Regions from separate parts of the Homo sapiens genome. Here regions 1 and 3 are each linked to region 2. Evidence: fine-mapped expression QTL. A gene starts in region 2. Each other region holds a variant in brackets. All regions are shown on one strand. Distances are between the middles of the regions.

Region 1 (8,184 bases), 50 kb after region 2:
ATCTGCCTGCTTCACAAGAAACATATTAAAGGCTCTAGGAATTCCTAGAACAGTAAAGAGACATTAACCAAATATTTAACAAAGTTATTTTGGCTGCTAAATCATGGAACATCTTCTTAATATCTTACTGAATTGCTCAACAGCTTTGTGTTCCTTTTTGGGAGTGGTAATTTAGTATCAGAGAACAATTCATTTCTAAATCTAGCAATGGGCTAAGAAGATAGAAGGCTCCCCATTATTTTTCCAGGAGTTTCGTCTCACATAAGTTAAGGTGTGCTCACTACCTCCTAGTATTTCATCTCCCATAGCATTTTAATTTTATTTTTCTCCTACACCTTTAAAATTTACTTTTTAAAATTGACAGAGTACATTGCATGTTTTTATCAGATACAACATGATGGTTTGAAGTACATATGCATTGTGGAATGGCTAAATCTAGCTAATTAACAAGACGCATTACATAACATCATTATAATTTTTGTGTTAAGAGCACATAACGTCCACTGTCTTTACATTTTTTTCAAGAATACATTATATCATCATTAACTACAGTCACCTTGTCATAAAATAGTTCTCTTAAAATTTATTCTTCCTATCCAAGTATAATTATGTATCCTTTGACCAACTTCTTCCCATCTCTCCTCCCCGCCAACCATCCCACCAGTAACCACTGTTACCACTGCTCTCTACTTCTACGAGATCAGCTTCTCTAGATTCCACATATCAGTGAGATCATGAGACATATGTTTTTCTGTGTCTGGCTGATTTCATTTAACATAATATCCTTTCGGTTGACCCATGATGGTTGCAAATGGCATTTTACGTTTTTACGGCTGATTATTTCATTGTGTATATATACCACATTTTCTTTATCCATTCATTCATTGATAGACACTTAGATTGATTACATGCCTTTCCCACAACATTTTTAGGCTTGGGAAATCAGATGAGGAATAGACTCTGGTATATGGATATCAGAAGTCAGAGGTGCTGATTCTGACACTAATAACTGTAACCTCTGAACTCCTGTTACCTTCTCTATAGGATGGAGCTAATCCCTGCTTTTTAATTTAATATCAACAAATATTAAAAGCTAGTCCTCAGGAAATTTTTCATCTAAAGAAATAGTGGGGCCAGGTGCAGTGGCTCATGCCAGTGATCTCAGCATTTTGGGAAGCCGAGGTGGGAGAATCACTTGAGCCCAGGAGTTTAAGGCCAGCCTGGACAACACAGTGAAACCCTGCCTCTACAAACACACACACACACACACACACACACACACACAAATTAGCTGGGCATGGTGGTACACACCTGTAGTCCCAGCTACTTGGGAGGCTGAGGCAGAAGCATCACCTGACCCCAGGGAGGTCAAGGCTGCAGTGAGCCATGATCACACCACTGCACTTCAGACTCCAGCCTGGGCAACAGAATGAGACCCCGTGAAAAAAAAGCAAGAAAGCAAGAAAGAAAACAAGAAAGCCAGAAAGAATGCAAGAAAGCAAGAGAAAGGGAGAGAGAGAGAGAGAAGGAAAAGAAAGAGAGAAAGAAAGAAAGAAAGAAAGAAAGAAAGAAAGAAAAAGAGAGAAAGAAAGAAAGAAAGAAAGAAAGAAAGAAAGAAAGAAAGAAAAGAAAGAAAGAAAGAAAGAGAAAGAAAGAGAAAGAAAAAAGAGACAGAGGGAGGGAGGGAGGAATGGAGGAAGGGAGGAAGGAAGGAAGGAAGAAAGACATGATTGATAGATGATTAAAGGTATAAAAATAGACAAGAAAATATCAGCAAGTGTTAATTGCTTGTTATTAAGTCCTGTGAGAAGAGTTAACATAAGATAATGTGACGGTGTTTAGATGACTGCTTTTGACTGAATAACTAGGGAAAGACTCTAAGGAGGTGATATTTCAATTGAAATTTGAAGTACAGGCAGGAAGATCTCGGGGATGAGCACCTCAAGAGAAAGAGCTACCGGGGATCTTAACACGACTTTGTGAAACAGGATTGAAGGAGAGAGGGGAGAGATTGGCTTGGAGAGGGAGGCAGACACCAGGTCAACTATGGCCTTGCAAACCATACTCTTTGGATTTTATTTCAATTACAATTACAAGGCACTAAAACATTTTAAGCATGAGGAAAGTGACATCACATACCCATCTATGCCATTGAGTGGTTGTAAAGAACAAACTAAGAATGTGCATTAATCAAAATTCCAGTGGGACATACTCAGGCCAGGTAATTTGAGGAGAATTATTTAAAGAGACTATTATGGGCAGGTTTTAAGGAACAAACCAGAGATAGTTAATTACCCACTGGCTACTAATAGAGGGGAACCCATTACCCCTTAACCCTGAAGGGGTAAGATAGTTCAGTGGCTATCTAAACCCGAGGAAGTTGTTAGGTGGTGAATTCCAGCGGAAAAGGGCTGTAGACTGGAGGAAATGGGCATGGCCAACCTGCAGCTCTGTGAAAAGAAGGAGCCACAACTTCACTCTCTTCTGCTTCCCATTGGGCAAACCCAATCAGGAGCCAGAGGCAAAGTCCGTTGATCAAGATCCACACAGACAATGATAGATGACGGTGGAGGATGGATCTGGTAGAACAGCAGAAAGGATCCAGCATAGCCTTGCTTCTTGACATCCACTCTCATCCTTTGCCTAGGTGACAACTTTGTGTTCCCAACCAGTTACCATATCTTCAAGGCCAGAACACTTGCAACCTAAAAATGTTAGCCATCAGCAGTGCTCTTCATAAAAGGAGTGGGAGGAAACATGGGGATAAGAAACAATGATCAGAGGCCATAGCTGTTAAAATCTCTGCTTCTGTAACTGGTTAGTATGTCTAAGTTGTTAACCACAGCATCTTTCTTCCAATGCCCATTTCATGTTTCCTTATTCTATGAAAGTATCTTGGTTGAATGGATTTTTAACCTGATTGCCTGAGTCAAACTTTAGTCCTACAGGAGCTGAGCCATTTGGTGGTCCTATCTTTACTACACTGCCACAATTTTCTATTGCCAAGGGCCGTGGGGTAATAAAGTCCTAAGTAGCCACAAACCCCACTGGGGTTCCATAAATAATCCTCCTCACCCCCACTGCACATTTGTTTCTCCTTGGTAATCAGGATCAATCACCCAGCCAGTACATGCAATAAGCTCTTCTCTGTCTTTGCTTCATCAGCCTGAAATGGCCAGTGGGCAATCTCAGTTTCTAATTCAATGGAACTATTATTGTATTCCCTTAGGGATTCGTTTCTCCTTCTGTTACTATAAACCCACAGAATCCAAGATTGCATGGATGGGAAGAAAACATTCCCCAAAACAAATATTTGGTATAATAAAGTCCATTCTCACCTCCAGCCCTTGAATCTTGGACATATGGTTTCCCAAGCATGGGAAACCACTTGTTTAATGAATATGCTGCATCATATAAGAAGTTATTTCCTTGAGGAACACTGAGAAGTGATTTCCTTGAGGATAGATTTCCACGATGGAAAGGAAATGAGAGGTTCTAAGAGGCGGGCTAGTGGCTTGTACTATAGTATAACCTGCCTTTGCTGGTGTGTGGTGATTAGGCCTGGTGGAACCACCATCAATAAATCAAGCGTGATCAGGGTGAGGAACAGGAAAGAAGGAAATTTGGGGAAATGGGGTGAATGTCAGGTGGATCAGAGAGATACAGTCATGGGGGTCAGGTGTGGTATCAGGAATAATGTGGGAGGCCGGATTGAAGTCTGGGCCAGGAACAACGGTAATTGTGGGAGACTCAACAAAGAGTGAGTACAGCTGAAGAAGCCGGG[G/A]AGCAGAAAGTATATGCATCAGGTATGAGGCAGAAAATAGATTTTGGAAGTTATGAGAACTGTAGAGAGTGAGTTGAGCGTAGTTTGTGATTTTGAGGGCCTCTAAAAGTATTAAAGCAGCGGCAGCCGCTGCATGCATACATGAGGGCTAGGCTAAAACAGTAAGGTCAAGTTGTCTGGACAGAAAGGCTACAGGGTGCGGTCCTGGCTCTTGTGTAAGAATTCTGACCGCGCTAACCATGCCTAGGAAGCAAAGGAGTTGTTGTTTTGTAGAAGGTGCTTGGGTTTGAGAGATCAGTTGGACACGATTGGCAGGGAGAGCACATGTGTTTTTATGATAATTATGCCGAGATAGGTAACAGATGAGGAAGAAATTTGGGCTTGATTGAAGTAATGGGGGCTGTCTGTGAAGCTTTGTGGCAGTACAGCCTAGGTAATTTGCTGAGCTTGATGGGTGTCAGGGTCAGTCCAAGTGAAAGCGAAGAGAGGCTGGGATTAAGGGTGCAAAGGAATAGTAAAGAAAGCATGTTTGAGATATAGAACAGGATAATGGGTTGTAGAGGCAGGTATTGAGGATAGGAGAGTATATGGGTTTGGCACCATGGGGTGGATAGGCAAAACAATTTGGTTGATAAGGCATAGATCCTAAACTAACTTGTAAGGCTTGTCTGGTTTTAGGACAGATAAAATGGGGGAATTGTAAGGAGAGTTTATAGGCTTTGAAAGGCCATGCTGTAGCAGGCGAGTGATAACAGGCTTTAATCTTTTTAAAGCTTGCTGCGGGATGGGATATTGGCGTTGAGTGGGGTAAAGGTGATTTGGTTTTAATGAGATGGTAAGGGGTGCATGATTGGTCGCCAAGGAGGGAATAGAGGTATCTTATACTTGTGGGTTAAGGTGGGGGGATACAAGAGGAGGATGCAAAGGAGGCTTTGGATTGGGAAGAAGGGAGGCAATGAGATACAGCTGTAGTCCAGGAATAGTCAGGGAAGCAGATAATTTAGTTAAAGTGTCTCAGCCTAATAAGGGAACTGGGCAGGTGGGGATAACTAAAAGGAGTGCTTAAAAGAGTATTGTCTAAGTTGGCACCAGAGTTGGGGAGTTTTAAGAGGTTTAGAAGCCTGGCCGTCAATACCCACAACAGTTATGGAGGCGAGGGAAACAGGCCCTTGAAAAGAAGGTAATGTGGAGTGGGTAGCCTCCGTATTGATTAAGAAGGGGATGGGCTTACTTTCCACCGTGAGAGTTACCTGAAGCTCGGCGTCCGTGATGGTCTAGGGGGCTTTCGAGGCGATCGGGCGGTGTCAGTCTTCAGCCGCTAAGCCGAGAGGATCTGGGAAGGAGTCAGAGAGCCTTGGGCCAGAGTTCCAGGGGCTCTGGGAGTGGCTGCCAGGTGAGTTGAACAGTCCGATTTTCAGTGGGGTCCCACACAGATGGGACGCAGCTTAGGAGGAATCCCGGGCTTCGGGCATTCCTTGGCCCAGTGGCCAGATTTCCGGCACATGTAGCAAGCTCCTGTGGGAGGAGGTTCTGGAGGAACGCCTGGCCGCTGCGGTTCAGGCGTTTGGAAGTTCTTGTGTGCTGGAGATGTGGCTGGGGTTTGTCTCACAGTGGAGGCAAGGAATTGCAACTTTTTTCTATTATTGTACACCTTGAAGGCGAGGTTAATTAAATCCTGTTGTGGGGTTTGAGGGCCGGAATTTAATTTTTGGAGTTTTATTTAATGTTGGGAGCAGATTGGGTAATAAAATGTATTTTGAGAATAAGACGGCCTTTTGACCTTTTAGGGTCTAGGGCTGTAAAGCGTCTCAGGGTTGCTGCCAAACAAGTCATGAACTGGGCTGGATTTTTATATTTGATGAAAAAGAGCCTAAACGCTTCTGATTTGGGATGAAGAAAAAGGAGCATTAACCTTGACTATGCCTTTAGCTCCAGCCACCTTTTTAAGAGTAAATTGCTGGGCAGGAGGGGGAGGGCTAGTCACGGAACGAAACTGTAAGCCAGACCAGGTGTGAGGAGGGGAGGCGATAAAAGGATTATAGGGTGGAGGAGCAGAGCCTGAGGAAGAATTGGGATCTAGCTCGGCCTGGTGAGGAGCAGCCTGGGGAGGAAGGGAGAGGTCAGATGGGTCTGTAGAAAAGGAAGATTAGAAAGACTCAGCGACGCTTCGGGTTGATACTGAGGGGACAGGCGGGAGGGAAAGAAGGAAGATTTGGGACGAGTTGCACTGGGCACAGAGACTAGGAAGGGGCTGATGTGTAAAAGAATGCCTGGACGTCAGGCACCTCAGACCATTTGCCTATTTTACGACAAGAATTATTTAGATCTTGCAGGATGGAAAAATTCAAAGTGCCATTTTCTGGCTATTTGGAACTACTGTTGAGTTTGTATTGGGGTCAAGCGGCATTGCAGAAGAAAATAAGGCATTTAGGTTTTAGGTCAGGTATGAGTTGAAGAGGTTTTAAGTTTTTGAGAACACAGGCCAAGGGAGTAGAAGGAGGAATGGAGGGTGGAAGCTTGCCTATAGTGAAGGAAGCAAGCCTAGAGAAAAGAGAGAGTAGAGAAACAGAGGGAAGGGGTTTGGGGGTTCTTACTTTCCAGAAAAGTGGGAAAAGGGGTTGGGGCACAGAGATAAGAGGTCAGGGCATGGAAATAAGGGATGGGGCGCAGAAATAAGGGGTCGAGGCATGGAAATAAGGGGTTGGGGCACAGAAATAAGGGGTTGAGGTGCAGAGATATAAGAGGTTGGGGCACGGAAATAAGGGATTGGGGCGCAGAGATATGAGGTTGTGGTACTTGCCCCTCCGCCAGAAAAGCGGGACTTGCTGCTAAGGGTGAAGGAGAAGGGGTTGAGGGGTACTTGCCCCTCCCCCAGAAAAGCAGAGAAGGGGTAGAGACAAGGAGAGAAGGGGTTGGGGTACTTGCCCCTTTCCCAGAAAAGTGGGACTTGCCGCTAAGGGTGAAGGACCAAGGCAGGCGTCCCTGCGTGGTCTGACACCTTTGAAATGTGGGTGAATAATCAGAGAGGCGTCCCTGCATTGATTAAACACCAAGGGAAGGCTGCCTTCCCAGTCCGTGACCGGCGCCGGAGTTTTCGGTCCACGGATAAAACATGTCTCCTTTGTCTCTCCCAGAAAATGAAAGGAATTGAAATTAAGAGAAGGGAGAGTGAAGAGTGGAAAGGAGAAAGTGGTTGAGGGACAGTGAGAGAGGTTGGAGAAGAGAGTAAGAAGAGGCTGCTTACCTGATTTAAAATTGGTGAGATGTTCCTTGGGCTGGTCAGTCTGAGGACCTGAGGTCGTAGGTGGATCTTTCTCACCGAGCAAAGAACAGGAGGACAGGGGATTGAGCTCCCAAGGGAGGTCCCCCGATCCAAGTCACGGCACCAAATTTCATGCGCGTCTGTGTGAAGAGACCACCAAACAGGCTTTGTGTGAGCAATAAAGCTTTTAATCACCTGGGTGCAGGTGGGCTGAGTCCGAAAAGAGAGTCAGTGAAGGGAGATAGGGGTGGGGCCGTTTTATAGGATTTGGGTAGGTAAAGGAAAATTACAGTCAAAGGGGGTTGTTCTCTGGCGGGTAGGAGTGGGGGTCGCAAGGTGCTCAGTGGGAGTGCTTTTTGAGCCAGGATGAGCCAGGAAAAGGACTTTCACAAGGTAATGTCATCACTTAAGGCAAGGACCGGCCATTTACACTTCTTTTGTGGTGGAATGTCATCAGTTAAGGTGGGGCAGGGCATATTCACTTCTTTTGTGATTCTTTAGTTACTTCAGGCCATCTGGGCGTGTATACGTGCAAGTCACAGGGGACGCGATGGCTTGGCTTGGGCTCAGAGGCCTGACATAAGGGATGTACAGATGTTTCTACTTAAATTTGCTTGTGCAGATTGGTAAGGGCATCAACGAAAAATTAACTGTTCTTCTAAAAGTCTTGGGAAGGAAAGAAGATAAGGAGACAGGAAATGGAACAACTAGTCATAGAAGAAAGGAGAGAAGGAGGAAAAGCTCAGGGAAGAAAGGTTGGGCAAACTTAGAAATTGAGTAAGGTTTCAAGTGACAGAGAGTAGGCAATTCAGGTCCAAAATCCCTTATCTACAATTCTGAAATTATGAAAGCATGAAAACAAACATTTTTAAAAATTCATTTGATAGCAAAACCTGACCTGAATTACTGTGAAGGTTTTCATAGTCTTTCTCTTGTGTAGCGGGAATATTTCTTTGTTTTACTGCAATAAGGTTAACATTGTGGATGAAAAAGAGTCAAACTTTGTAAAATATTTGAAAGGATTTATTCTAAGCCAAATATGAATAACCAAGGCCCGAGGCACAGTCTCAAGAGGTCCTGAGAACATGTGCCCAAGGTGGTTGGATTACAGCTTGATTTTGTACATTTTAGGGGGACA
Region 2 (8,167 bases):
AAAAGAAGATAAAAATTCAGTTCCTCAGTTGCACTAGCCCACATTTTGAGTGCTCAATAGCCATATGTATCTTATCAGCCAATGTAGAAATATAATATTAAAATCATTGCACAAAAGTTCTATTGCTGTAAGGTGCCAAAGATGTAAATGAAATGGATTTTTCTTTAGCCAAGTTATTTATCTGGAAAATACTGATAATATGCTACTGCAAAGGAGTGGAAATTGCTCTGAGTAAGTATCATCTGATCTGCTGAATCATCCAGGGCCAATCATTACATTTCCCTGTCACTGAGAATGAGAACTCTGGGGGTTGCACAGAGTTCCTTCTGCAGCCACCTAAGGGGTGGATGAGTAGAGAGAGAACCAGTCAGAAGTACTTGGAGTTTCTCTCATGGCTGGCTCTAACCAGAGGAGCTTAGTATTGGGCTTCTCCGAAAGGTTTTGCTGAAAGAAGGGGTTCCTTGCTTTAAGAAGATGAAAAAACAGCCGGGCGCAGTGGCTCACGCCTGTAATCCCAGCACTTTGGGAGGCCAAGGAGGGTGGATCACGAGGTCAGGAGATGGAGACCATCCTGGCTAACACGGTGAAACCCCGTCTCTACTAAAAATACAAAAAATTATCCGGGCGTGGTGGCGGGCGCCTGTAGTCCCAGCTACTCAGGAGAATGGGGTGAACCTGGGAGGCGGAGCTTGCAGTGAGCCGAGATCACACCACTGCACTCCAGCCTGGGCGACGGAGCGAGACTCCGTCTCAAAAAAAAAAAAAAAAAAAAAAAAAGAAGGCGGAAAAACAGTGAGACCAGATGAGTTCAGAGTTTTTCTCTTCACTTTTTCATATCTATCTATCTATTCTCATGACACATGTAATACAGGCTCAGAGAGAATGGATGTATAAGTTACATTTATAATTTTTAAAAACTAATATGAAGAAAATAAAGGTAAGCAAAATGAATAGACTAAAAACCACCCAGTAATCCTAACACTCACAGATAACCAGTGTGTATTTTCAGGCATATATCCTTAGAGACTTCCCCAATTTTTTACTAGCTTTAAGTTTCTGGGATTCTAGAAGGCTGAGCCTTGAGCTCTTCACGTATTTCTTAAATTGTTATAGCTCCACGTGCCTTCTAAAATGCATCTTTGCCATATTTTCGTTTATTAAAAAGACGCTAATTCTTGCCTCAAATAGTATGACCTCTATCTTCTCTGGAGATGTTAATTTTTCTGGTTTATTATTAGGATTCAACACCTGTATTTTCAAATCAGTTGAAAAACAGACACACACACCCCTCCACACACAAACGAACACAGAATACTTCTTTTAATGTCTTCATTAAGCAGTCTAATTGCAGTGACCCCCAAGGCAGCTCTATTTTGGCCTTTATTCTGTTCAACTGGAATTGAACTCTGTGTGCCTTTTTGTCCAAGCTTCTGGGGACAATGCCCATTTGTTGTTTGGCTGGCACAGTTTCATCTGTTGTGGAGGGGTAGGTACATCTTTAGTGCTGGTCAAATAATTATAATAAAGAGTTTGGTTGGTCTTATGTTTGGTTAGAAAATGTGATCTAACATCAGCTGACAATCACAATAGATACAAACAGCACACATAGACTTTCTTTTCACAATGGGCTTCTCAGCTAATATCTCAGACAATATTGTGAATATTATGGTCATACAAACAGTTCTGACTAATATCCAATGTGAATTTTAAACTTAGCAATCCACTAAACAAAGCAAAAGCTGGAATTTTCTGCTTTTAGATCAGTATGTGGACTAATGGAAAAAAAGTCACACAACTTCATATAACTTATCTTACATGCGATAACTCATCATACATGCCTAGATATTATTATATTTAAAATATCTGGGTTGGTTTTATAAACTTATATTTATTAAAAACTATACTGTGCTTGGTACTGGCCTAGATTCATAGCAGGCAGTCAATCAATACTTGTAAACCAATGGATTTGACTGAGAAGATAAGTAATATCGCAGCAAATACGTTTCTTGCACCTCTCGCCATAATTGAGTAAATGATTTAACTATATAAAAACATAAAAGATGCTTACCTGCTTTTCCTCAGAACTTCCAGAATCAGCCTGTTTAACCTTAGAAACAGAAAAGATGAAGAAAGATTACAAGAATGTCCTCCTAGCACATGGAAGCACACAATTCAGTTATTTTCAGGAATTTTCTTTAAGATGCAACTGTACTCACTGGTATGGCACAGGTGATGCCTAGGAGGCAAAAGCAAATCACTGCAATTCTCATGGTAGTGAGTTTTCCTGCAAAATATTTCATAAGGAATAGCTGACATCTTCATAGGTTACAACAGTGATACCTTTTTATACTACCACATTACAAAATGATCACAAATAAAATATATTTTCTATAGAATCTTTTCTACTTCTTAGAGATGCCTTTTCTTTTTAGTATTATAGTCTTTCAAGTTAATATTTATATTGCCACCTATTATCCATCTTTCACTATTAGGCAAGGGAAAGGGAAATTTTGCAAGTCTGTATTTATTCAACTTTAAAATTTAGAGTTCCAGAAATTATACCATTACTACCTTATATATCTAGCTCTCTAAACCTACAAACAGATCAACAGTAACTTAATTATATTAATAAGCTAGTATGGGAATATTTTTTAGAGAAGAAAAAACTCACAGAAAAAAATGAAAAAAATTTGCTTTATCCATTTTTCCAACATGTACTTTAAATGTGACTTTTAGCTTAATTATCAAGTAGGTGCTACTTAGGTGAAATCAAACTATCTCTGAAATTTGTTATTTAAGTAAGATGTTCTAAAAATTTGAAATTCAAAGGAAAACATTGAAAATAGCCAACAGCTTTTCTATTTGTAATAATAAGCCTACACAGTGTCATACAGGTATCTTGGTGAATATTTTAACAGCTAAATTTAGCAGTGGCATATTCAGAAAGGGTTTTCTTCCCCTTAAAAGTGAGATACATCATTTAAAAAATAGCATTGTAATTGGTTTAATTAGCATAAAAGATCCCTTTTCTTTTAAATTCCTGCACAGTCACCCACTGAAAATTATATAGGTATAATTATTCCAAAGGGGAATTTAATTTTACTATTTTCTGATTAGCATCGGTGGTTTCCGTTCTTTTGAGGACCCAGTGGAAGTATTTTTAAGTTTTAAATTTGATTGGCATTCAAAATATCTAGACACCTTTGTTCCAGGAGACCTGCAATGTATCTAATCTGCTTATTAAAAAGGCTAGAAAATTTAAGTCTGTTTAACAGCATTACAATTAAAAATATTTTTCCTTAGAATTTGGACTTCCCCATGAAATTCAGCTGAATGCACAACCCAGTAGCAAACTGAAGCTGTACCTTGGTCGGCGTTTGGCTGAGAAGGCTGCAACTGGCCTGAGACGAGTCTGGTCCCGACGATGCTGTGCTCTGCCTCCTCCTGCTGCTGCTGACAACCAAGCCCTCCCAGAATTTAAATGCTGCTGCAGACATCCTCCACCAACACAGGGAGGCGGAGAGATTGTGTCATGAGGTTTTCTGCCACTGCCCAGCCCACCTGCTCCCACACTTCCCCCTCTGGTTTTGTGGTTAAAACAAAAAAAAACAAAAACGCACACACACAATCTACAGTTAAAACATTACTTATGTACAATATCATTAACTAGCTTTTTCATTTACGGGATGGGCATTCAGCATCCAGGAAGAGCACTTAGGGATCCCATGAAAAAGGGAGAAAGTAGGGAAAAACATTAATGTAAAATTAAATAGAATGGATTTTTGTTTCTTTCGGTTTAAGTAACATAAAGGTAATATCTGCAACCACTCTTGCCTGTATGATTGTACTTATTGAAGAGCCAGAAGGCTATTGTTCAAGCCTGCAAGGAGTTCAGAAAACTTGCCTCTGTCCTTTACTACTCAAGCTTAGCTTTGTGATTTCGAGTATGCAGTAGCTTGTTACTTAGACAAATGGCACTAGTGACATTAAAATATAAAATTCTATATGAAATAGAAGAATGGTAATTTATTCTAGATGTTGCAGAAGTAAAGCAGTTTCTGACTGAGAGCAGGATGACTGCTTGAGAGGGCTGCTTCAGGAGCCAGACCGTGGTTCTGAATTCCGCTGTGTCACTGCTGACCTGTGCAACCTTGGGCAAATCGCCCAGCCTACCTATCCTTGTTCCCTCATCCATGAAATGCAATACTATTACCTAGGTCATGGGGTTTTTGAGGGGTTTAAATGAATTAGTATGTTAAACTAGCAATGCTTAGCACATATTAGATGCAAATGCTCTGCGTATCTTAAGGACTATATGTGTGTTAACTATTATGAAATTTTTAAGAGGGGCAGGCAGTCACGAATTGTAATGTCCTTTAAAAGAACAGGTTATTAAAATGAGAGTAGACGTAAGATCTTTAAATTGTATGCATCAATAAGGAAATTTTGCACATTTCTAAAGGAACAGATTCGATTTTGGAATCATCTTTTTTTCTAGTTTTTCTCCCAAGGTATGTAAAGTAGGCCACTTAAAAAGAAAAACATTTTTAAAAATTTCTGTATTAAAAAACACTTTACTAGGTATTTAAAAGGTGTCTGAATGAAAGAAAATTACAGGGAAAGTCCGAATATTAGAGCAGAATTCAGGGATAGCAGAGCTCTGGGTCCTTTTAAAATATTTAATATTGCCTTGAGATTACTTATCTTCATTTGCTTTCTCAGTTGTGAAATGCAGATTGCACTATTTATTTACCTTACACCTTTATTGTTAAGACTTGTGTGTAATTGAGATGAAAAATAAATGGTCCTATTTATTATTAGGTTGCTGCAAAAGTAATTGTGGTTTTTATTAGTCCTAAAGTGTCAGCTTCCTTTTGCCAAATATTACTTTTAATATAAATATAGATTAAATAATGTCTTGCAGTGATAGTGTATAGCTAATTCATAGGTTTCATGAACATTTGGTAGGGGGAAATATGTCTCCCTTAAATTGGATGTATTCCAGATGAATTGATATGATTGGTTTGTAGGTAATAAGCACCCATTTTAATAAGTAAGATGACGACTATCTCTATAAAATAGAAAGCACACAGATTATAAAGTTGCAAAATAGACTTCTTTTTTCTGCTTCTAAAAACTATTTTTTTCCTTTAAACATACCCGCATAAGCGTGTCATGTTGTCAATTTAGTGGAGGGAAGTCTGAAAATTCTAAAAACAACAAAATTTCCACAGGATTTACTGTAGTTTACTCTGTGCCCACGGGAATGATTCAATATGAAGCTAGAATTAATTATAGGAATAGATTATGCTGGAGCCCAGCCATCTTGAGATGAACCATACGACCCTTTACAGGACTCTTCTGGTCATAGCTCCGCAGTGCCACACGATGGCAGCATTTCTGAAAAAAGATTTCAGACCACAATCTGGTTCTACCAATTTTCTTAATTCCAGCGGGATAGAACACTCCTGTATTTAATGACAGGACTATATACAGCTGTGGAGCTCTCCATTTCTTGGAATGCCAGGTGAGGAAATATTTCCCAACAATGACCCGCTATGCAATCAGGGACAGAGACCCAGAGAACCAAAGCGTTCTTGTTTTGCTCTGTTGTTGCCTTAGGCAATCCCAAGTTGACACTATTGTCTCCTTCCCGACTTCTACACTCATTCAAAAAGTTCCTAGTCCCAAGGCCTCTCTCAGAGAAAAGGCTTGTGAATTCACGGGTAAAGAATGTGTCTGGGATGCTTTGGAGTTGAGAAGATAAAGTGATTTATAATGGGAGGCAATTCTGTAAAGTAGGAAATGGATGCTGCGTCATTCTGACTATCGGGGAGGTCATGTTTTGGGATGTTTCTTGCTGTTTGCACTCAAACATGCTGCTGCTGGTTGTTTTTTCTGAGTAGGATTTTCTGTCAGAATTAACATGTTAAATGATTTAAATCACAGTGGCTCTATCTGTAATATTTCCAAAGTTTCCATTCTTGATTGGCTAATGATTGGTTGTTAGAATCAAAAGGTCAAAATGCACAAATTCCCTATAAATCTTGTGAGTGGAAAGTAAAAAAAGTTTAGTTGTCAAACTAGAATGCAAAGAGTAATTTGTGATCTTAAATTATACACACTAAGAGGACACATGGAAACAAATAAAGAGCCTTAAGGTCTTTTTCCTGAATTACATGAAAATTCCCATATAATAAAAAGTAAGTGTTCAATGTCACTACTTTGGTGGACAACTTTATTAAACTCACTTCCAGTTTATTTGAACATTTCTAATTATATTTTACTTAGTAAAGTGTAACCAACTATTTCAGTGTTTTCAGCTCCACAGGTAATTATTTTTTTCCCTTGAGTCAAGGTTCAGACATGACTCTGATATTTTGGTAACACCACTAATCTGTCATAAAGAAGTTTGGAATTAAAGCTAATCGGAAGCCTAGCACCATTCATCATATATAGACTGGGAAAAGGGGCATTATTTATCACAGGGTAGCAAGCAAAGGTGGATGATAAGAGGGTGCTATTTTCAAGTTCAGACATGAAATTAGAGCATTTCAGAAATACAAAAAAAAAAAAACAAAAACACCATAAACTCTTTTATTCCATTGCTCAATAGCTTAGACAACAAAAGTCAGCTCCTGACAAAGTGGTCGTACCATTGGTAAACATTAGTTTCAATTTAAAACAAATAAAAAAAAGTTTTCCTTTAGACACATAGAACTGTTATGGAGTAAGTGCTCAATAAATTGTTGGTGATTGCCCACTCAGCCCTGCATCTATGACACGAATTCTGACCTTATAGTTTTTGCTTATGAATACAATGCATAGGCACTATGCTTGAATTCAGAGTATATCTCATATATTGATATCTAATATCTGCCTGTACTCAAGAATCTAGCATTTATTTCTTCATTAAAGTAGTATTAGTAACTCTGAGGACATTCTAATGCTCTTTAAATGATAGACTTTTTTAAGGTAGACTTAAATTACTAACTTTTTTTTCTTAAATGACACCATTCTTACCCTCATGGAGCCCATTTGTTCATGAAAATCAACTAGGAAATTTGAAACTTGAGTAACCAATGAGATTAAGGGGGTGTGGCTAAACAGTAAACTTGGCAGCACCCTGGGTAGAGAAGGTATATGGTAGAGACCCTGTGTCCACATTGGAGTTGAAGGGATGGGTATTCTGGGATTGGATCCAAACAGAAAGTCCCCCTTCCCACTCAACATCAACCACAGCAGCATAAACTCGAGACCTATAACAACCTGGGGAACAATAGAGGAGGCTGTAATCAGAGAGGATCCAAAGAGGGAGATAGAACAAGGTGGAAAAGCACAAATAGAAAGTCTAGCAGCTGCAGGAGGACCTTGTTTGTTCAGAAAAAGACATTTTGTGGCAATAAGCGGTCAGTGACAGTCATTTTGCAGATATATTTGAGGGGAGAAAATCATTCTCCGAAATTGGTTTATGAGAATTCTTGCTTAAAATCTGATGTTTGAGTAATTTTTGGTAGAGAATCTATCATAAGGTTGATATGAAAAGGTGACAATTTCAGTGCAAAAGAGAAAACAAAATCAAAAGAAAGGGGAGTAAAACTAGACAACAAAAGCAGCTCAGTCAGATATTTTTCTGGTTACACTTGGCTAAGGTTTTTTGTTTCGACAATTCTTGTCAAGGCATAGTTTACATTAATGCCCCTATCCCATAGCATAACATTTATGTTTCTTAAACCTGTAATTTAAAATATTCTATATTAAAATTTGATTTCTTCTTTAATGTTTGAATTCCTCATAGAGTGTAAGTTCCATGATATGCTAATCCCTCTGCAGATTATGTGCCAAAAATATTTATTCAGTGAAGAAATTTAGCTCAATTATGACATGTATATAGTTCTTACATAAATTGAGTTATTCTTGCTGATTATTTTCTGTTGCCTTCATAAAGCCCCAGATTAAACATATTTATTTATTTTTGAGACAGTGTCTCACTCTGTCACCCAGGCTGAAGTGCAGTGGCACGATCTCGGCTCACTGCAACCTCTGCCTCCTGGGTTCAAGCGATTCTTGTGCCTCAGCCTTCCAAGTAGCTGGGATTACAGGCATGCACCACCATGCCCAGCTAATTTTTTTTTTTTTTTTTTTTTAGTAGAGATGAAATTTTATC
Region 3 (8,184 bases), 87 kb after region 2:
TGAGAATGCTTCTTCACTACTTCTTTGACCCGCCTCTCTTCTAAGTACTCTGTCTGATCTTCTTTAAGATGGAGGATCACTTTGGTACCCCTGCCAATGGGCTCACCATGATCAGCATGCACAGTGAAGGAACCTCCAGCAGAAGACTCCCAAGCATACTGTTCATCATCGTTGTGCTTTGTGATCACAACCAGTTTCTCTGCCACCAGGTAGGCAGAAAAAAGCCAACACCAAACTGCCCAATCATGGAGATGTCTGCACCAGCCTGAAGAGCCTCCATGCATGCTTTAGTACCAGACTTGGCAATGGTTCTCAAATTATTTATGAGATCAGCTTTGGTCATGCCAATGCCTGTGTCTACCAAAGCCAGGGTACGTTCCTGAGGGTTGGGGATGATGTCAATTTTCAGCTCTTTACCACTGTCCAACTTTGAAGGGTCTGTCAGGCTCTCATAGCGAATCTTGTCCAAGGCATCAGAAGCATTAGAGATCAACTCCTGAAGGAAAATCTCCTCGTTGGAATAGAAGGTATTGATGATGAGGGATATGAGTTGGGCAATTTCTGCCTGAAAGGCAAAAGTCTCCACCTCCTCCTCTCCATGGTGCACTTCCTCAGGCATCTTGAAAAGAAAAGGCTTACACGTACTGGAGAGCAATGTGAGCTTGCTTTCTGATACCCAGGCAGCACCAACGCTGTGCTGGAGTGACTTGAGAGCATCTTTAATCCATCTTGAGTTAATTTTTGTATAAGGTGTAAGGAAGGGGTCCAGTTTCAGTTTTCTGCATATGCCTAGCCAGTTTTCCCAGCATCATTTATTGAATAGGAGATCTTTTCCCTGTTGCTTGTTTTTGTCAGGTTTGTTGAAGATCAGATGGTTGTAGATGTGTGGCATTATTTCTGATGTCTCTGCTCCATTCTATTGGTCTTTGTCTGTTTTGGTGCCAGTACCACACTGTTTTGGTTACTGCATTATTGTAGTATAGTTTGAAGTCAGGTAGCATGATGTCTCCAGCTTTGTTCTTTTTGGTTAGGATTGTCTTGGCTATACATGACCTTCTTTGATTCCAAATGAAATTTAAAGTAATTCTTTTCTAATTCTGTGAAGAATGTCAGTGGTAGTTTGATGGGAATAGCATCAAATCTATAAATTACTTTGGGCAGCATGGTCATTTTCACAATATTCATTCTTCCTATCCATGAGGATGGAATGTTTTTCCATTTGTTTGTGTTCACTCTTATTTTATTGAGCAGTGGTTCATGTTTCTCCTTGAAGAGGTCCTTCACATCCCATCTTAGCTGTATTCTTAGGTATTTTATTTTCTTGGTAGTGATTGTGAATAGGAGTTTGTTCATGATTTGGCTCTCTGCTTGTTTATTGTTGGTGTGAGGAATGCTTTTGATTTTTGCACATTGATTTTGTATCCTGAGACTTTGCTGAAGTTGCTTATCAGCTTAAGGAGTTTTTGGGCTCAGATGGTGGGGTTTTCTAAATATAGGATCATGTCATCTGCAAACAGAGACAGTTTCACTTCCTCTCTTCCTATTTGAATACTCTTTATTTATCTTGCCTGATTGCCCTGGCCAGAACTTCCAATACTATGTTGAATAGGAGTGGTGAGAGAGGGCATCTGTGTCTTGTACCAGTTTTCAAAGGGAATGCTTCCAGCTTTTGCCAATTAAATATGATATTGGCTGTGGGTTTGTCATAGATAGTTCTTATTATTTTGAGATATGTTCCATCAATACCTAGTTTATTGAAAGTTTTTAACCTGAAGAGATGTTGAATTTTATCAAAGGCCTTTTCTGCATCTATTGAGAAAATCATGTGGTTTTTGTCTTTGCTTCTGTTTATGTGATGGATTACATTTATTGATTTGCATATATTGAACCAGCTTTGTATCCTAGGGATGCAGCTGACTTGATTGTGGTGGATAAGTTTTTTAATGTGCTGCTGGATTTGGTTTGCCAGTATTGTATTGAGGATTTTCACATCAATATTCATCAGGGATATTGGCCTTAAGTTTTCTTTTTTTTATTGTGTCTCTGGTAGGTTTTGGTATCAGGATGATGCTGGCTTCATAAAATGAGTTAGGGAGGAGTCCTTCCTTTTCAATTGTTTGGAATCATTTCAGGAGGAATGGTACCAGCTCTTTATACCACTGGTAGAATTCAGCTGTGAATCCATCTGGTCCTGTGCTTTTTATGGTTGGTAGGCTATTAATTACTGCCTCAATTTCAGAACTTGTTATTGATCTATTCAATAACAAGATTTATTCTATACTATAAACACCTCTATGCAAATGAACTAGAAAATCTAGAAGAAATGGATAAATTCCTGGACACATACAACCTCCCAAAACTAAACTATCGGGGGAACCCACCCCCGATAATTCAACATTATTTCACGTAGGTTCTTTTCTATTTCCCTAAGTGTCTGCCAGTCTGAGAAATAAAGGCAAAGAGCACAAAAGAGAGAAATTGTAAAGCTGGGTGTAAAATAATAATTCTTGTTATTGACTTCTTCCTGGTTTAGTGTTGCGGGAAGTCAGTGACCCCGAATGGAGGGACTGGCTGAAGCCATGGCAGAAGAACATAAATTGTGAAGATTTCATGGACATTTATTAGTTCCCCCAAATTAATACTTTTATAATTTCTTATGCCTGTCTTTACTGCAATCTCCCGAACATAAATTGTGAAGAGTTTATGGACATTTATCACTTCCCCAGTCAATACTCTTGTGATTTCCTATGCCTGTCTTTAATCTCTTAATCCCGTCATCTTTGTAAGCTGAGGATGTATGTCACTTCAGGACCCTGTGATGATTGCGTTAACTGCACAAATTGTTTAAACAATATGAAATCTGGGCACCTTGAAAAAAGAACAGGATAACAGCGATGTTCAGGGAACAAGGGCGATAACCATTAGGTCTGGCTGCCTGAGAGCTGGGCAGAACAGAACCATATTTCTCTTCTTTCAAAAGCAAATAGGAGAAATATCGCTGAATTCTTTTTTTCAGCAAAGAGAATGCCTTCCTAGGGGAAGGTCTCTGAAATGGCTGCTCTGGGAATGTCTGTCTTTTACGGTTGTAGGTAAGGGAAGAAATAAGCCCTGGTCTCCCATAGCGCTCCCAGGCTTATTAGGACGAGGAAATTCCTGCCTAATAAACTTTGGTGAGACCGGTTGTCCGCTCTCAAACCCTGTCTCCTG[A/G]TAAGATGTTATCAATGACAATGCGTGCCCGAAACTTCATTAGTCATTTTAATTTCACCCGGGTCCTGTGACCTCACCCTGCCTCCATTTGCCTTGTAATATTTTATTACCTTCTGAAGCATGTGATCTCTGTGACCCAACACCCTATTTGTACACTCCCTCCCCTTTGAAAATCACTATTAAAAACTTGCTGGTTTTGTGGCTTGGGGGGCATCACGGAACCTGCCGACACATAATGTCTCCCCTGGACACCCAGCTTTACAATTTCTCTCTTTTGTGCTCTTTGCCTTTATTTCTCAGACCAGCAGACACTTAGGGAAATAGAAAAGAACCTACGTGAAATAACGTTGAATTATCGGGGGTGGGTTCCCCCGACAGTTTAGTTTTGGGAGGTTGTATGTGTCCAGGAATTTATCCATTTATTCTAGATTTTCTAGTTCATTTGCATAGAGGTGTTTATAGTATTCTCTGATGGTAGCTTGTATTTCTGTGGGATCAGTGGTGATATTCAATTTATCATTTTTTATTGTGTCTATTTGATTCTTCTCTCTTTTCTTCTTTATTAGCCTGGCTAGCGGTCTATCTATTTTGTTAATTTTTTCAAAAAAATCAGCTCCTGGATTCATTGCTTTTTTGGAGGGTTTTTATATCTCTATCTCCTTCAATTCTGCTCTGATCTTAGTTATTAATAATTTTTAATTTGATGGGATAAATTGTAAGTCAGGAGTTACACATGGGCAGAACAGGAAGGAAATGAAAACGTACTGAGTGACTGTTACATGTTACATGTTACAGTATTAGCTCATTTAATCCTGAGAACAGTACTGTAGGGAAAGAATTATTATGCCCATCTCACAGATAAGGAGTTACACAGACTTGGCCCTTCATTATTTTCAACTGTGTGATCCTAGGCAAGTGATTTAACCTTTTTAGCCCTCAGTTTCCTCATTGGCTAAAATGGAGACAGTAAAGTATGCAGGTCCTAGGGGTATTGTCTGGATTAAATTCAATAACAGACATTAAAGTTTTAGCCCAGCACCTGCCTTATGACAGTTTATACATACTGGCTTGCTATGTGCCAGGTACTGGCTGAGAAACTTAAATTTATCATCTCATTAAATCTTCACACAAATGTTATGGTAGGCACTCAATTGTTATGTTGTTCTTACAAGTAATAACAAGCTTTATTAATTATTTTACTGTGGCTCAGAGAGATTCTTACTCATCCAAGATCAATAAACTAACAAGTGGCAGAACTGATATTCCAATTTAGCTTTATTTGAGGGCAAAAGCCAGACACTTTTAAGAATATCTCACATTAGAAAATGATGGGAATACTCATAAATTACCTAAGCTATTTCATCTCCCTGTCTCTGATTTGGAGACCTATAAGAGAATAAGCCACTGCTAGGTACAGGATCACATTTTAAAAATCGTGACGTATTTAAAAAATGGAGAAAAATGAAAATGTGATGTGGATGGAAAGAATGTGTGTATGAAAACAATCAAGGTTGTAGCTGGAAGAGGGCCTACAATATCAGTGATACTTGAGCATCTATGATTGTGCCTAGTCTTTCAGTATGGCATTAAAATAAAGTGCATATTAACATGAGTGCATATGCCTGAGCATTGAGAATCTATGCAACATTATGTCTCATGTCTCATTAGACAGGAGACAAAGTGAGGCACATGAGAACATACAATCGCTTTACTAGTTTTAAATTCCACACCTAAGTTATAAACCAGATTTCTGCAACTACATGCATGTGACACAATTATAAATATATAGGCAGCATCTAATGTACTTTTATTAGGTACCCCTGTGAATAAATCCACTATTTTTGGATGGAGACTTCTGCTTAGGGTGGAGGCATGAGGAAGAGAAAGAGGAAGAGATGTTTGCTCAATTACCACTGGGTTCATTTTAGAATTTAGGATTTTATTTTCCTAATGTGGTTTGCAAATTTAGGGACAGATGTGAACTTTGCTAGACGAGATTTTGAAGACTATCTTGGAGAAGGATTGAGCCAGGAGAAGAAATATGAACTTGGCATCTGACAGGGAATTTGAAAGAAAATAGAAATGTTTAGTGTGTTTTATTATTATTGTTTTATTTTCTGTGTGGCATATGTGTTTCTGTCACCCATGAAATTGTCATCCAAATTTGCCTTTTGGGAGCTAATGCTTGAAAGAGTAATTGTTGTCTGTGTGTTTTTGTTTGGTTTGGTGGAAGGATAAAGAGGGCCCTACTTTAAGGTGGGGGAGAACACACTCACCTACGTATGACTACTTTTTCCAGCCTGCAAAAGCCATAGCCTTGAACCTGTTGTACTCTCAGTTTATAACTCTTTTCCGTAAATACTTATTTCTGTTTATACAAGACCTTTCCACCTCTGAGAATATGATACAATTTCCCTGAGCAGGTTAGTACAAGTTAGGCAAAGTGTTGGGTCAGAAAACAAGTGACAACAAAACGTGGCATTATGATGAACTTAAATTGACCCTGATTGGATCTGGTGTATGTGGCCTCTTGGAGTGAATTCTGTCTTCATTTGGTACATGGACTGAAAGTTTGTGGGGCCCTTGTACTGCCCATATCTTTTTTAATTGGGAATCTCTGTACTGGTAACTGGAAACAAGTTTTACTCCTTTTTGGTGATTCCTCCTGCAGACATCAATTAAACTTGACTATAGCACTAACTTGCTTAGTTAAAGCAAGAAGAAAATTCCTTTGCTCTTGTACTCTCTGCTGGGGCCTCTGGTGGATGCTGAATGCCCTGTTGACCTCTGACAAAATCTGCAGCTGGTGAATTTGTTACCTATTCTCCCGGTTGGGTCGGGCCCAGTGGTTCTCCTCTGCTGCCTTAACCCTACCTGGGGTTGCTGGCATTGTAGGCCCCTCACATCTCTGCCATGTCATCCATGCAGCCTTAATCCAGCCTGCCTGCTTTATGACGTCATTCACCATGGCTGTCCCTCAGCAAGATTTCCACCCCTCTGGTCAGCTCTCTTCTGTGCCTACTCTGGGGCACATTGGAGTTTCCGGATTTCTCTCTCGCACTTCAGAGCTTAGAGAGGAGAACAAGTGCTAATCTGACTGTCTGTCTGCCTAATCACAGCACACTACTGTGTCTCTGTTATATCCTGGGGAGCATCTTTTCGGATGTTATGTTTCCTTGTGAAGCTTGATCTCTTCTTGACTGTTCCCCGGAAAGCCAGGCAATTATTCCTTCTGCTCTAGGAAATGCCCAACCCTGTCATGAAATTTATCTGGGTTTTCTATCTCTTTGCCTCTTGGGCTCAAGTTCAGGGAAGTCTGACTGTACATTTCTGTCTTCATGTATCCTTGTTCCTCTCCCCCGAGCTTTCCTCCTTCCCTCCTTCCTCCACCTGCTACACGCAACTTCACATTTCATCTCCCTCACTCCAGCTTTATTCTTGGCTTTATTCCATGGTGTATGAGGAGACGGGTGGAAATAAAAGGATGTACTAACAAAAGAACATCAATTAGAAAACATTTAGCAAACGTAGTGTACTTATTTCATGTTCAAAGCACATGAGAGAACTGAAAGATAAGAAAGGACAAGTTCATCATTCTCACAGACCTTACGAAAGTCTAGTTGGAAGATGTGCCCAGCGAACACTAAGAAAGACAAATGAGGGTAGACCATACAATAGAAATGGGCAATATTTTGAGAGATTTGGAGAGGGAGATGCCTAATGGAGGGTGAGAGTGGAGAATTTTTGAGGGAAGAAAGGAGAAGTCATAGACAGCAGGTGGAGAGAAACGGGTTGGACAAGGCAGAAAGAAAGGCACGGTGACATGGTAGAATGACAGTGTAACCGTCTGTGCTGTGCAGTCACGTGTGGCAGGAAACACATCTGGAAGTCTGATCGGGTCTCAGGCTCTCTGGCCTCTGTATCGCCGTCTTATCAGAAGAGAAAATGTAGGCAAATCTTTACCAACCCGATCATACTTTCTCTGCTAATCTCTTATCTCTAAGTAAATTGTTTGCTTGTCCAATTAAAAATTCCCACCCCAAACTTGCATAGTTGGATAGTTAGAACCCTTCTCTTCTGACTCATGAGGGAGAGAGAAATTATAACTTAGTTTACTTTTATAGAGCTATTTGTGGGACTGTCTGGTTTGCCTGTGAATAATGGTTCTTTTCTTTCTTCGTTTCTCACCAGCCAGTGTGGTTTGTGATTTAATAGCCAGGCAGAACACTAAAATTAATACTTGGTAATATTTTAAGCCCAAATGAGGACAAGAGAGGGGGAAATTTTAAGTTATTAGTTTTTTTGTGTGGGAGCTTACTGTCTCCTTTGGAAAGCATTTAGGCCAGGCAGAACCTCACCATTAGTTTTTTGTTTTTGTTTTTTTCAAATGAGCGTGAAAAAGGAAATGTCCCTGTTCCTGCTTTATTTTTCCTTTAAACACAAATCAATTCCTAGATGAGAAGATAGGGTTTAAAACCCAGTTCCTGGCACAATGAAGTGATGGCTTGCAGAGATCAATTTACTTAAAAAAAAAAAAGATACAATTCTGCTTCTTTTGTGAGTAAAGTTTTTTTGTGTGTGTCAATGGAAGAGAGACATGTTCTTTTTGTGTGTGTGTAGGTATTGGGGAGTTCAGGTAAAGAAAGAGTGTAAAAAATAAGACTTACATAAGATACCTAAGCAGGTGCACTTTACCAGAATAAGATTTGTGGCCACCTTATTTTCCCTTTTTCTTTAATGCCTTTGAAGGAAGCTAATTTTTTTTTTCCTAAAAGAAAACAATTCTTCCTCTTGCAATAGTAGAACCAAGAAGAAATGGACACTTGACCACTCTTTGCTTTGGGGAGGAGCATTTATTTTTTCTAGCGTCTGCTAGGAAATATTCAGATAATACAGAATATGCATTTTGGAAAGATGTGGGCCTGCACATATTTCCCATTATTGCCTCTGATGATGTACTGTGTACAATCATGTTAA

What was found. PIP is the estimated chance that this variant, and not a neighbour inherited with it, causes the effect. A credible set is the group of variants that fine-mapping cannot tell apart.
Region 1: its variant is the best candidate, but not a certain one, in a credible set for the expression of SPP1 in testis (GTEx, PIP 0.51).
Region 3: its variant is the best candidate, but not a certain one, in a credible set for the expression of SPP1 in whole blood (INTERVAL, PIP 0.76).

The regions. Positions count from the first base shown.
Region 1 is chr4:87,921,245-87,929,428 of GRCh38, reverse strand. No RefSeq gene overlaps it. Among named protein-coding and RNA genes, the nearest start is that of SPP1, 50 kb to the left of the region's middle. RefSeq lists enhancers at 6,668-7,194, 7,195-7,722. The variant G/A (reference allele first, on the strand shown) is at 3,785.
Region 2 is chr4:87,970,999-87,979,165 of GRCh38, reverse strand. SPP1 (secreted phosphoprotein 1) reads right to left here and starts at 3,452. Exons shown (of 7, transcript NM_001040058.2): 1 at 3,366-3,452; 2 at 2,217-2,284; 3 at 2,069-2,107. The coding sequence starts at 2,270. It overlaps LOC124900730 (a long non-coding RNA gene), which reads left to right and starts at 5,397. Exons shown (of 2, transcript XR_007058172.1): 1 at 5,397-5,527. RefSeq lists cis regulatory regions at 3,457-3,466, 3,501-3,510, 3,685-3,700, 4,138-4,146, 4,213-4,221 and 1 more, enhancers at 3,479-3,549, 3,312-3,811, 4,174-4,194 and promoters at 3,366-3,579, 3,369-4,456, 3,456-5,698.
Region 3 is chr4:87,884,278-87,892,461 of GRCh38, reverse strand. It overlaps the pseudogene HSP90AB3P. Among named protein-coding and RNA genes, the nearest start is that of MEPE, 55 kb to the right of the region's middle. RefSeq lists an enhancer at 1-432. The variant A/G (reference allele first, on the strand shown) is at 3,208.